2 separate regions of the Homo sapiens genome follow, and region 1 is linked to region 2. A link means that fine-mapping ties the variant in region 2 to the expression of a gene that starts in the linked region. Tissue or cell type: whole blood. Region 2 holds a variant in brackets; the other region holds the start of a gene. All regions are shown on one strand. Distances are between the middles of the regions.

Region 1 (5,148 bases), 32 kb after region 2:
TGACCTCAGGTGATACACCCACCTTGGCCTCCCAAAGTGCTGGAATTACAGGCATGAGCCACTGCGCCTGGCCCAGATTTTCTTTCATATTCTTGTTTCCTGGATATTCTGCATGATTGATGAATGTTCCTTTTTTTTTTGAGACAGAGTCTTGCTCTGTCACCCAGGCTGGAGTGCAGTGGCGCGATCTTGGCTCACTGCAAGCTCCATCTCCCGGGTTCATGCCATTCTCCTGCCTCAGCCTCCCGAGTAGCTGGGACCACAGGTGCCTGCCACCACGCCTGGCTAATTTTTTGTATTTTTAGTAGAGACAGGGTTTCACCATGTTAGCCAGGATGGTCTTGATCTTCTGACCTTGTGATCCGCCCGCCTCGGCCTCCCAATGTGCTGGGATTACAGGCGTGAGCCACCATGCCCGGCCTACTGAATGTTCCTATTTTATAGATATAAATACATCACCTTTATGTGAATGTGTATTGTTTTGTAAACAACTTGTAAAATTGTTGAGACAATTTACTCTTAGAGGGGGGAGAAAAAAGACCTCATGTTCATCTGGTCTACCCCTTCCATTTTATAAGCTAAGGAGGAAGCCCTAGTTAGTAGAAATGACTTGCTCCAAACTCCACATGGTTTCTGGCAAAATCTAGGCTTCTTAACACTTTGCCTAGTGCTGTATGTATTTTGGGAATAGCATAACTTCTATTTCATAAGAAATGACACAGGGAGAGGGCAACTGACCCAAAGATTAGAACTCCCCTTACTTCAGCCTCTGCTCTCAGACTGTATGCTAGGAAAAAGCTGAGCAGTCGACCTCCAGGGCTGAGGAGACTGACCTGTAATGTAATTACACAGTTTAAAGCCTCTGGTGAAGAGGGTTTTGAGGAGCTGCTATGACTCAACATCTGTACTAATCTGAGGCTTATATAGAAGATAGAGTGGCCGATATTCATTTAAGAAGATGAAATGCGGCCAGGAGCGGTGGCTCGCATCTGTAATCCCAGCACTTTGGGAGGCCGAGGTGGGCAGATCACCTGAGGTCAGGAGTTTGAGACCAGCCTGGCCAACATGGCGAAACTCCGTCTCTACTAAAAATATAAAAATTAGCCGGGTGTGGTGGTGCACGCCTGTAATCCCAGCTGCTCTGGAGGCTGAGACAGGAGAATCGCTTGAACCTGGGAGGCGGAGGTTGCAGTGAGCCAAGATCATGCCACTGCACTCCAGCCTGGGCGCCAGAGCAAGAGTCTGTCTCAAAAAAACAAAAAAAAACAAAGATGAAATGCGGCTGGGCACGTTGGCTTATGCCTGTAATCTCATAACTTTGGGAGGCCGAGGTGGGTAGATCACCTGAGGTCAGGAGTTGGAGACCAGCCTGGCCAACATGGTGAAACCCCATCTCTACTAAAAATACGAAAATTAGCTGGGTGTGGTGGCGGGCACCTGTAATCCCAGCTACTTGGGGGGCTGAGGCAGGAGAATCTCTTGAACCCAGGAGGTGGAGGTTGCAGTGAGCTGAAATCGCGCCACTGTACTCCAGCCTGGGTGACAGAACGAGATTCCATCTCAAAAAACAAAAAAAACAAAAACAGAAGATGAAATGCATGAAAGGAAAGGTTAAAAATGATTCCCATGGGCCAGTTTTAGTAATACTCTCTTCACTCCTTTTGCTGCATGGTACTTGCACCCTTTGAGCTTACTGTTCTGCTTGATTGCATGTCCATGAGGCCGAGAATCTGCCTGTCTTGTTTACCACGAGATCCACAGAATCAAGCCCAAGCCTGGCATGTAGAAGATACTCAAGAAAGATTTGCCGAATAAATAAGAGATACACGAATCAAAAGCATTGCTTTTTGCCCTCAAAAAGTGTTCAACATTTGCTATGGAACATTTTAGCACCATTCCCTTGTGCTAATTACTTTCGTAACTAAAGTTAGAAGCTGATGCTCAGTGCATCTGTGTTTTAGCAAATTGAATTGAATCTGTATATCCCACTCAAAGAAATTTAATTGGAATTGCACATGAAACTGAAGCAACCCACAAATCAGCATCTTGTCTTGCTTGCCTTAAGCCCCAGAAGGTCCTGAAAGCCACTGTTCTATTGTTCATCTCCACCTACACACTTTACTGTATGCCCTTTACTCAATAACCTTCGTGGAGTGTTTCCATAGGTACTATCAAGCCACTAACGATTTCACAACTGGAGCCACTGTTGGTAAATCCAAGTATGTTGCATCAAAACAGTTTCAACCTACTTGTCTAGCTCATAGCCCACACATCTATCCAGAGACTTTAAAACTGTTGTATTTTGCCCCATACCTTCCTGGTGATGGCAGAGTAGAGATGAGAAGCAATTAGGCAGCAGTTGCTTCCCAACAGTCTCTTCCAGTTTGTTCTGCCTCTCATTTGAGTTCTGAATTAGGAGTTGCTCCTTTACAAATGGTTTTAAAGTCAAACAATTACTTGTCCATTACAATCACCTGTCAATTGCTAGAAAAATTAGACTACTGAGGAGGTAGATGGTACAAACACAGGCAGAGGATACAGACATTAGTAAGAGACAAGGAGGCGACTGCACTACAGCAATGTCCTAGGACAAATTCTAACCCTGCCATCTAACCCTGTTTAGAGGCAAATCTAACCCTGCCATAAGTAGAGAGGACAGGGTGGTGGCAGAGGTGGGAAGAGTGTTGTTTTGCCCTTACTTTAAGTGAACCTGGACATGTCCTGACCTTTGCAAACACCACCCCTCCCCCGTAGTTCCCACTTACCTCTGCAGTGGGCTGTGTCCAAGCTGCTGAGGTCCTTGCACAGGTCAAATCTAAGTTCTCTTCCCTTTCAGCCCCCGCTTTGGTGGCTGTTGCTGCTGCGGCTCTGCTGCAGGCTAACCTTGTTTTTGCTCGGGTGGGAGGCTGGCCATGGTGATCTCATTACAGAGCTGCGTACTGGCTCGGACCAGGCACGTGATGAAAAAAGTTTGGGTCTGTGTGGGCTGGAAACAAAACACCCTTCTTTCCAGAGGGCATGTCCTTAAAGCGGAAAGGGAATCTAAGCTCAAGCAGGAACTTGAAAAACGTGCATTTGGCCAAACTCTGGGCTTCCCTCCCCCTGCCCCCTTTTTTTCTTTTAAAAAATTTTCTCCATCATCTGCAACTTAAGAAAATGTCGCTGTCCCATAGGAGGAGGCAGATTCAAGAAAAGATGTGGGTGTCAGATAATGGCAGGTAGTACAAGTTGATAAAAAGGTGACAGAGACCAGAGGATCTCATTTTCTTTTTTTTCATTGCTTCTTTTCCTGTGGAGGGCAGGCAAGGGAGGAGAGATGCATCAGCTATTTCTAGTGAGTCTAGATGCAGGAAAGGCATGCCTGTGGAGGGTAAATTTGCACTGTGATTGAAATAGGGGAACTTAGGATACAGGACCCATGACATGAAGTGAGGAGCACTTTGGAAAAAGAGCTGCTTTTAAATTTCTGAAAACTTTTTAAATAAGCAAATGTGCAAATGATATAAAATACAATAGGGTCAAAAGAATGTACAATGAAAAGTCTTTTTTTAATTTCTCCTCAGTCCCCTTTTTTTCCTCCCAAGAGACAACCTCTGTGACCAGATTTTTGTATATCCTTCCAGAGCTTACCTCTGTAAATAGAAACATGTGTAGGCCTTGTGCTTCTCCTTTAGCAACAGCACCATAGTATGTTTGTTGTGCACCTTGCTTTTTCCACTTAACAATCAAACATGGAGATTGGCTAGGCATGGTGGTGCTCACCTGTAGTCCCAACTATTTGGGAGGCTGAGGTTGGAGGATCACTTGAGCCCAGGTATTTGAGACCAGCCTGGGCAGCACAGGAAGACTCCTTTCTAAAATAAACAAAACTCAGAAACTTGGCTGGGCACGGCGGCTCACATGTATAATCTCAGCACTTTGGAAGACCAAGACGGGAGGATCACTTGAGGCCAGGAGTTCAAGACCAGCCTGGGCAATGTAGCAAAACCCCATTTCTACTACATATACAAAAAATTAGTAGAGCTTACTGGCACATGTCTGTTATCCCAGCTACTGGGGAGGCTGAGGTGGGAGGATGGCTTGAGCCCAGGAGTTGGAGGCTGCAGTGAGCTATGATTGTGCCCTGCACTCCAACCTGAGTGACAGAGTGGGACCCTGTCTCTAAAAAACAAAACAAAATAAAAAATGCCGGGTGCAGTGGCTCATGCCTGTAATCTCAGCAATCTTTGGAAGGCTGAGGCAGGAGGATTTCTTTTTTTTATTTTTTGAGATGGAGTCTTGCTCTGTCACCCAGGCTGGAGTGCAATGGCATGATCACAGCTAACTGCAACCTCCGCCTCCTGGGTTCAAGCGATTCTTCTGCCTCAGCCTCCCGAGTAGCTGGGACTACAGGTGTGCGCTGCCAGGCCCGGCTAATTTTTGTATTTTTTTTTTTTAGTAGAGATGAGGTTTCACCATATTGGCCAGGCTGGTCTTAAACTCCTGACCTCATAATCTGCCCACCTCAGCCTCCCAAAGTGCTGGGATTACAGGCATGAGCCACCACCGTGCCTGGCCTGGCAGGAGAATTTCTTAAGCCCAGGAGTTAGAGACCAGCCTGGGCAACATAATGAGGCCCTGTCTCTAAAATAAATAAAACTGTCAACAACAAAACATGGAGACTGCTCCATATAGTACCCTTAAGAGCTGCCATGTTCTGTTTAATGGCTGCCTCCCGTCCCATTGTATAGATGTGTCATACTTTATTTGGCCAATAAAGGACCATGTCTTCCTCATTTTCCTTGCCTAATTCGTTGCACAAAGCAAGGGCTCAGTAAACATTCAATGCTTGCTCACAAATTAATTACATTTTGTACAACTTGTTCATGTTTTTCCTCATCTCTCCTTTCAGAGATACTAATTTTTTTCAATATTCCAGATATTGCAGAATGTCTATATTTTCCAGCTGACCAAGTCTATCTTGTGCACTGAACAAACCTGTGCTACCAGACTTCCAAGACTCACTTTAGTTTGGCTCCTCTCAGATGATATTATTTCCTATTCCCTCCTACTTTCTATTTTTTAATTTTTTTATTTTTATTTTTGAGATGGAGTCTCATTCTGTTGCCCAGGCTAGAGTGTAGTAGCACAATCTCGGCTCACTGCAAC
Region 2 (5,148 bases):
TCTGTTGGGCCCAAAGGTTGGGAGTAGGAGACAGTATCCCAGGCTGACAAGGGCTTGCCCTTTACCTTGGGCACCTTGTTAATTTTTAGCCTGTGCCCTTCCCCACCTTTGCCCTCCCAGTGGTTGGTATGTGGGAAGCCCATCTCAGTTCCTGTGACTTCATGTCTCAAACCAAGGATGAGCGTCTGGTCTCTGCTATGATGGTGGTATCCGAGGCCTTTCCCTGCCCAGTCTGGTGCCTGCCCCACATTGTACCGGACACTGGATTCCTGGACCCCCTTCTCCTTTCCTTTCTTTCCTTCAGGTCACGCAGCCCTGTACTGTATCCAGCACCACAGAAACCTCAGTGTTTTTCCTCTGCTGGTTTGGGGCACAAGGAAGCCTTAGGGTATGGGGAAAGGCTGTTATTACCTAGAGTTTACTCCCAGGCCAGGGGGCTGCCATCTTCTTCACAGACATCCCTGAAAGGAAGCCCCTTTGGGGCAGGGAGGTGAGGACTTCATCTCAACATCGGCTGGTGGTTGGTAGGGGAGCTTTTTCTTTTCTTTCCTTTTTTTTTGTTTTTGTTTTTGTTTTTGTTTTTGGTAACATGTTAGGAGTTAATGTTGCAAAGAGTAGTTTACATCTTCACTTTCTGAAGACACTTGAATTTAGGACCGATGTATCTGTGACAAGCATGCCAGAAGTGGCAGGGGCCATCAGGGCTAACCACTTCACACCTACCATCGTCCCATGGGGATCCAAGACCTGAGATAAAGCAACAGCCTGCCCAGATCCCTCTGTTCATCCTATCCCTTCCAAGGTTGGTCCATGCCAACATAACCTCTGGGCATCAGACATCAGCAGGTCTGTGTGCCTCAGCCCTGTTAAGGGGCAGGTTTCTCTTTAGCCCTCTTCCTGCACTTGGGAGCAAAGGCACTACCAGTAGAGAAGGGCCATCCAGCCGTGCCCCAGCCTGGACCCCTGGGGCTCAGATAGAGGTGCTGAGCCCCTGTGTCAAAGTTGTTAAATGTTTTTGTTTTGTTCCATTGTAGCTCTTTTTTTTTTTTTTTCCCCTTTCCTGGTGATTGATTTTACAAAAGAAAGTAAGCTGCTTAGAAGGCCCTGGAAGGGAAGTGAGGAGGAGGGACAAGGAAGATGACTAGTTACGGAGGGTGAGGGTTGTTTTTTGCCAAAAAGCCTGGGTAGAGTGATCTGAATTATCTGGCACCCTCCTGAATGGAACCCCAGAGTACCTCCTGTGTGGAAGGGTCCCTGGATTTTCCCTAACACCCACCCTCTCCCCCTTCAGCCATGCTGATGGCAGAGAAGATAAGAACTTGGAGCCCATTTCTCACTGGAGAGGAAAACTTGTCATCTGGCTTTGCGGAGAAGGTTCCACCTTACGCTCGTAGTACATTATCTTTACTATGTGCTAGGATATCATATTTAAAAGGACAAAAAAATGTAAAATACTTGAATGAGCTTGTATTATAACATTAATATTATTGAGAGTATCTGCTTTCCAGGCTGAAGTGATTCATTCATTATTCTAGTCCTGCTTTAGTCCTTTGTAATTTGTGGTAATTATGCTTTTCTTTTTAATACAAAAAAATGTATAAAAATAAACACTTGAAAAGGCAAAATACTGGCTGGTCTTCCATCTAGGTTACTGCTATTGGGTGTGAAGGATGGGTTTCTGGTAGAGTTCCCCCAGATCCGGAGGAACCCTGCACTCAATGTGCACATGAAACCTCGGCAGGGGTTCTGCCATTGGGCTTCGAGGAGTCTGCCTAAGGCAGGGGCTTCTACAAGCCTTGAGTTCATGTCCACCCTGTGTCTTAAGTGAGACGTGACAGTCATAGCCAGTGCCACAAAACAGCAGTCCAGCATAATGCCAGGATTTCAGCGCACTTGTCAGCTTCCAGGTTTTCCATCCCCTGGCTGTGGCCTGCATTGTGTTATGAGACAGCCAAGAAGAAAAACGATGAGGCTTCTTATGGAGGGTTGCCACAACCCCTCTATGAACAGACTTTTCCACAGGGGGGTGAAGGAGGAATGATCCAGCACCATGTGGACTTACGGAATCCTGGTCAGCCCCGAACCCTGAGATGTGATGCTGGGGAGGGATGGAACAAAGAGTCCCCCATTCCCCGTATAAATTACAAAACTAAAAATGGGGCATGGCCTTATTTACGTGTTCATCTGACAACTGTCTCCCATACCTGGCTTGGGTAAATGGTTTTTCCAGAGAGTGCTTTTTCACTGTTCTTGAGGTTGGCAGGTACTTCAGTACCACCAGTGACCTCCACAGGCCAAAGGAAAGTTTAGGAGATAGTGTCCAGGGCTGATGCAGACGGATTGGTACTTTGAAAACAGAAAGATGAATTAATTGAAACTTACTTTCACAAATTATCGTTAGGAATGCTCACAGCAGCTTAATTTCACAGCCTGAGCTTCCAAATGCTATGTCTGAAGTATTAGAAGTCTTGTAGTAGACACCTCCCTTCAAAAAAAAATTATCCACTGGAATTCATGAAGACCAGTTTATTTTACATGCTTGCTTTCACATTCTTTACTGGGAATTTAAGGCCTTTTTTCAGCCTTAACTTGTATACCAACCTCAAGGATTTTGTTTGATACAGAAAAGGATAGGGCTGGGCCCTTCTGCCAAGGACTGATAACCTGCCTGCCAAAAGGAAGAGGGAATGAAAGCCTTTTGTCCTTCTAGGCCCCTTACAGTACCTCAAAATCTAAAGGCCTTAAAGGGGAAAAAAAC[C/T]GTATCTGTTCTTTCTCCTTATCTCCTACCCTTCTCTTTAAGCATATTGAAGATGGACTTTTTTCCAAATGTTTATTTGTAGGAAGAGGTGATGAGTGCAGGCCAGCAGCTGAGAACTTACAGCTTTGATGCACCAGGAACTGTATTCAAGCTGAGGGCAAAAGCCTCCTAGGGAGGGAGCCAGGTCCACCAAGGCCAGAGACAGACAGGCGAGACTGTGGAAGGCCAGGGAGATGCTGCCTGGTAAGTGCTCAGCTGGCCTACTGGGCAAGTCCTCTGGGGTTCTAGAGCTGATAGGAAGAAGGAGTCCATTTTGATAGTCCTGCCTGGAGACTTGGACCTAGCTGATACTAAGGTATTTTATAAAGCTACAGTGGATGTTTTTCTTAAGAGAACTGAAAGTTGGAAAAGGCACAAGTATATATAAGAATTTAGTAAAATGATAATGGTGGTCTTTCAAATCAAAGAGTGATCTTTAAATTGTTCTTGGGAACCACAGGGTTCCTGGCCATGTCTGGCGGCTGAGAGGAGGCCAGGATGGGGACTTCAACCCAAGCAGCTGTGGTTTTGCCTTTGATAAGGTTCCTGGTAAAAATCATCTTGAATAAATGTTGCTGAGAAACTGGTAAAGCATTCGGGGGAGAAAGGATTTTGCTCTTTGCTCTGCCATGTTTTTCCGGGCTCTTTCTTCGGGGAGAAAGAGGGCTCTAACCTTTGGTCCTCATTCAGATAGGCTAATTAGGGGTCTCGGGTGTCCCCAAAGGGCAGCAACTTTGACCCCTCCCCTTGTGGGTAAAAGGGCTTTTCACAGTTTCCCAGCAGTTGGTTTTTGGTTTCCACATAAGGCTAAAGGTGTTAAAGTTTGGTCTGCACCTCGTTGGTTTTAATCCAGGGAGGAGCTCCTGGATTTCTTTTTCTCCCCCACAGAGGGAAACCTTTTGTTTGCGGTGGGCCAGAGTTAAAACGGGGCCTTTACCACTCACTCAGAGTGTTTGGTGTGTGTATGTTTGTGTGTGTGTTGGGTGAAGTGGCGACTGGCATCTGGTATGTCATGAATTGAGACCTATAATGATTTGCCAGGGTGTCTTGGCTCTGGCCTGAGTCGGGTATGTGAAAGCCTTTTGGGGCAGGAAGGGGCAAAGTGATACCTGGCCGTCCCACCCTCTGGTCCCAGAAGGAGCTCTCGCTGGAGCCAGGCAGCCTCCAGTCCCCCTCCTTTCAGCCTTGTCATTCTCTGCATCCTGCCCAGGCCACAAAGGAGTTATCTGGGGCTGAACCCCTCTCCTTCCACAGCAGAGGACCAGGGGTCTCCTCCCTCTGACCAGCCTCCAGTCTGGGGAGCTGTGTTTTCCTTTTTCTTAAGCTAACTCCTGATCCCATTGAGGGACATCAAGGGCAGTAGTTTGAAGAAAGCCTCATCCTTGGCCCTGCTTTTCCGGGAAGCCGACCTTCCCTCTACCCTGGTGGTGCCATCATTAGGGCGTGTGGCCGAAGGAGGCAAATTGTTAGGTGCAATCAGGAAGCCGTGTCTGCATCCCATGGCTGAGGGACAGCCAGGATGACACTTAGGCTGTCTCTCACTCCATCCTCTTTGGGGAGTCTGGGATGCTCTCAGAGAGCGGGGTGAAGCCCAGCAGGAGGACATGTCTCTCGTAGGCCTTGGTCTGCTTGAACATGGTGTCAGTCCCATGGAGGTGGTCCAGCACACCCAGCACCCCATAGCACTGGTTGAACCTAGAAGAGAGAGGACGGCACTGCAGTGCCCATGCTGGAGGCTTCCGTGCAGATCCCATTTCATTTGTGCCAGCCTCACACATTTCTCAGCCCTCCTACCCCACACCTGTCACCACCATCCTGACCATCTGCATCAGAATAAGCTGGGGAGTTGCTACCAATGCATCTCCCGGGGGCCACTCCAAACCTGCAATTTGCCGTATCTGGAGTCCTCCTTTGAAAAGCTTGCTGTGTGATTGATGCCCACAGTCTGAGAATCTCTAGCAGAACTAGGCTTCTTCAGGTATGAGATCACCAGCATCAGAATCCCCTGGAACACTTAACTAAAATGCAGGTTTCCAGGCCCTGCTCCCCCAGATACCTTAGTTCAGCATATTTGGAGTGGAATTCAAGAGCCTATATTTTAAACAAGCATCTCAGGTGATTCTGGTATAGGAGGTTTGTAGACTACACTTGAAAAAGTCTGGGGCTTTCAGAGATACATGACTTCCTTGTGATTGCCTGCAGGAGTTTTATGCATATATGTACTTTTCTAAAGAGAATGTCCAGAGCTTATTCAAAGGGCCCAGAGTCCAAATAAAGGTTTAAAACCCCCAGTTGGAGGAGGACCCAATTTCAGAAGGAAAAGAGTAAGGTCATCCCAGTGTGGTTATTTT

What was found. PIP is the estimated chance that this variant, and not a neighbour inherited with it, causes the effect.
Region 1: it holds the start of FAXDC2, and the variant in region 2 is fine-mapped to the expression of FAXDC2 in whole blood (TOPMed, PIP above 0.99).

What each region holds. Positions count from the first base shown.
Region 1 is chr5:154,847,718-154,852,865 of GRCh38, forward strand. It overlaps FAXDC2 (fatty acid hydroxylase domain containing 2), which reads right to left and starts at 2,886. Exons shown (of 9, transcript NM_032385.5): 1 at 2,766-2,886.
Region 2 is chr5:154,815,981-154,821,128 of GRCh38, forward strand. It overlaps LARP1 (La ribonucleoprotein 1, translational regulator), which reads left to right. Exons shown (of 19, transcript NM_033551.3): 19 at 1-1,625. FAXDC2 (fatty acid hydroxylase domain containing 2) reads right to left here. Exons shown (of 9, transcript NM_032385.5): 9 at 2,512-4,492. The coding sequence ends at 4,336. Among named protein-coding and RNA genes, the nearest start is that of MIR378H, 11 kb to the right of the region's middle. The variant C/T (reference allele first, on the strand shown) is at 2,759.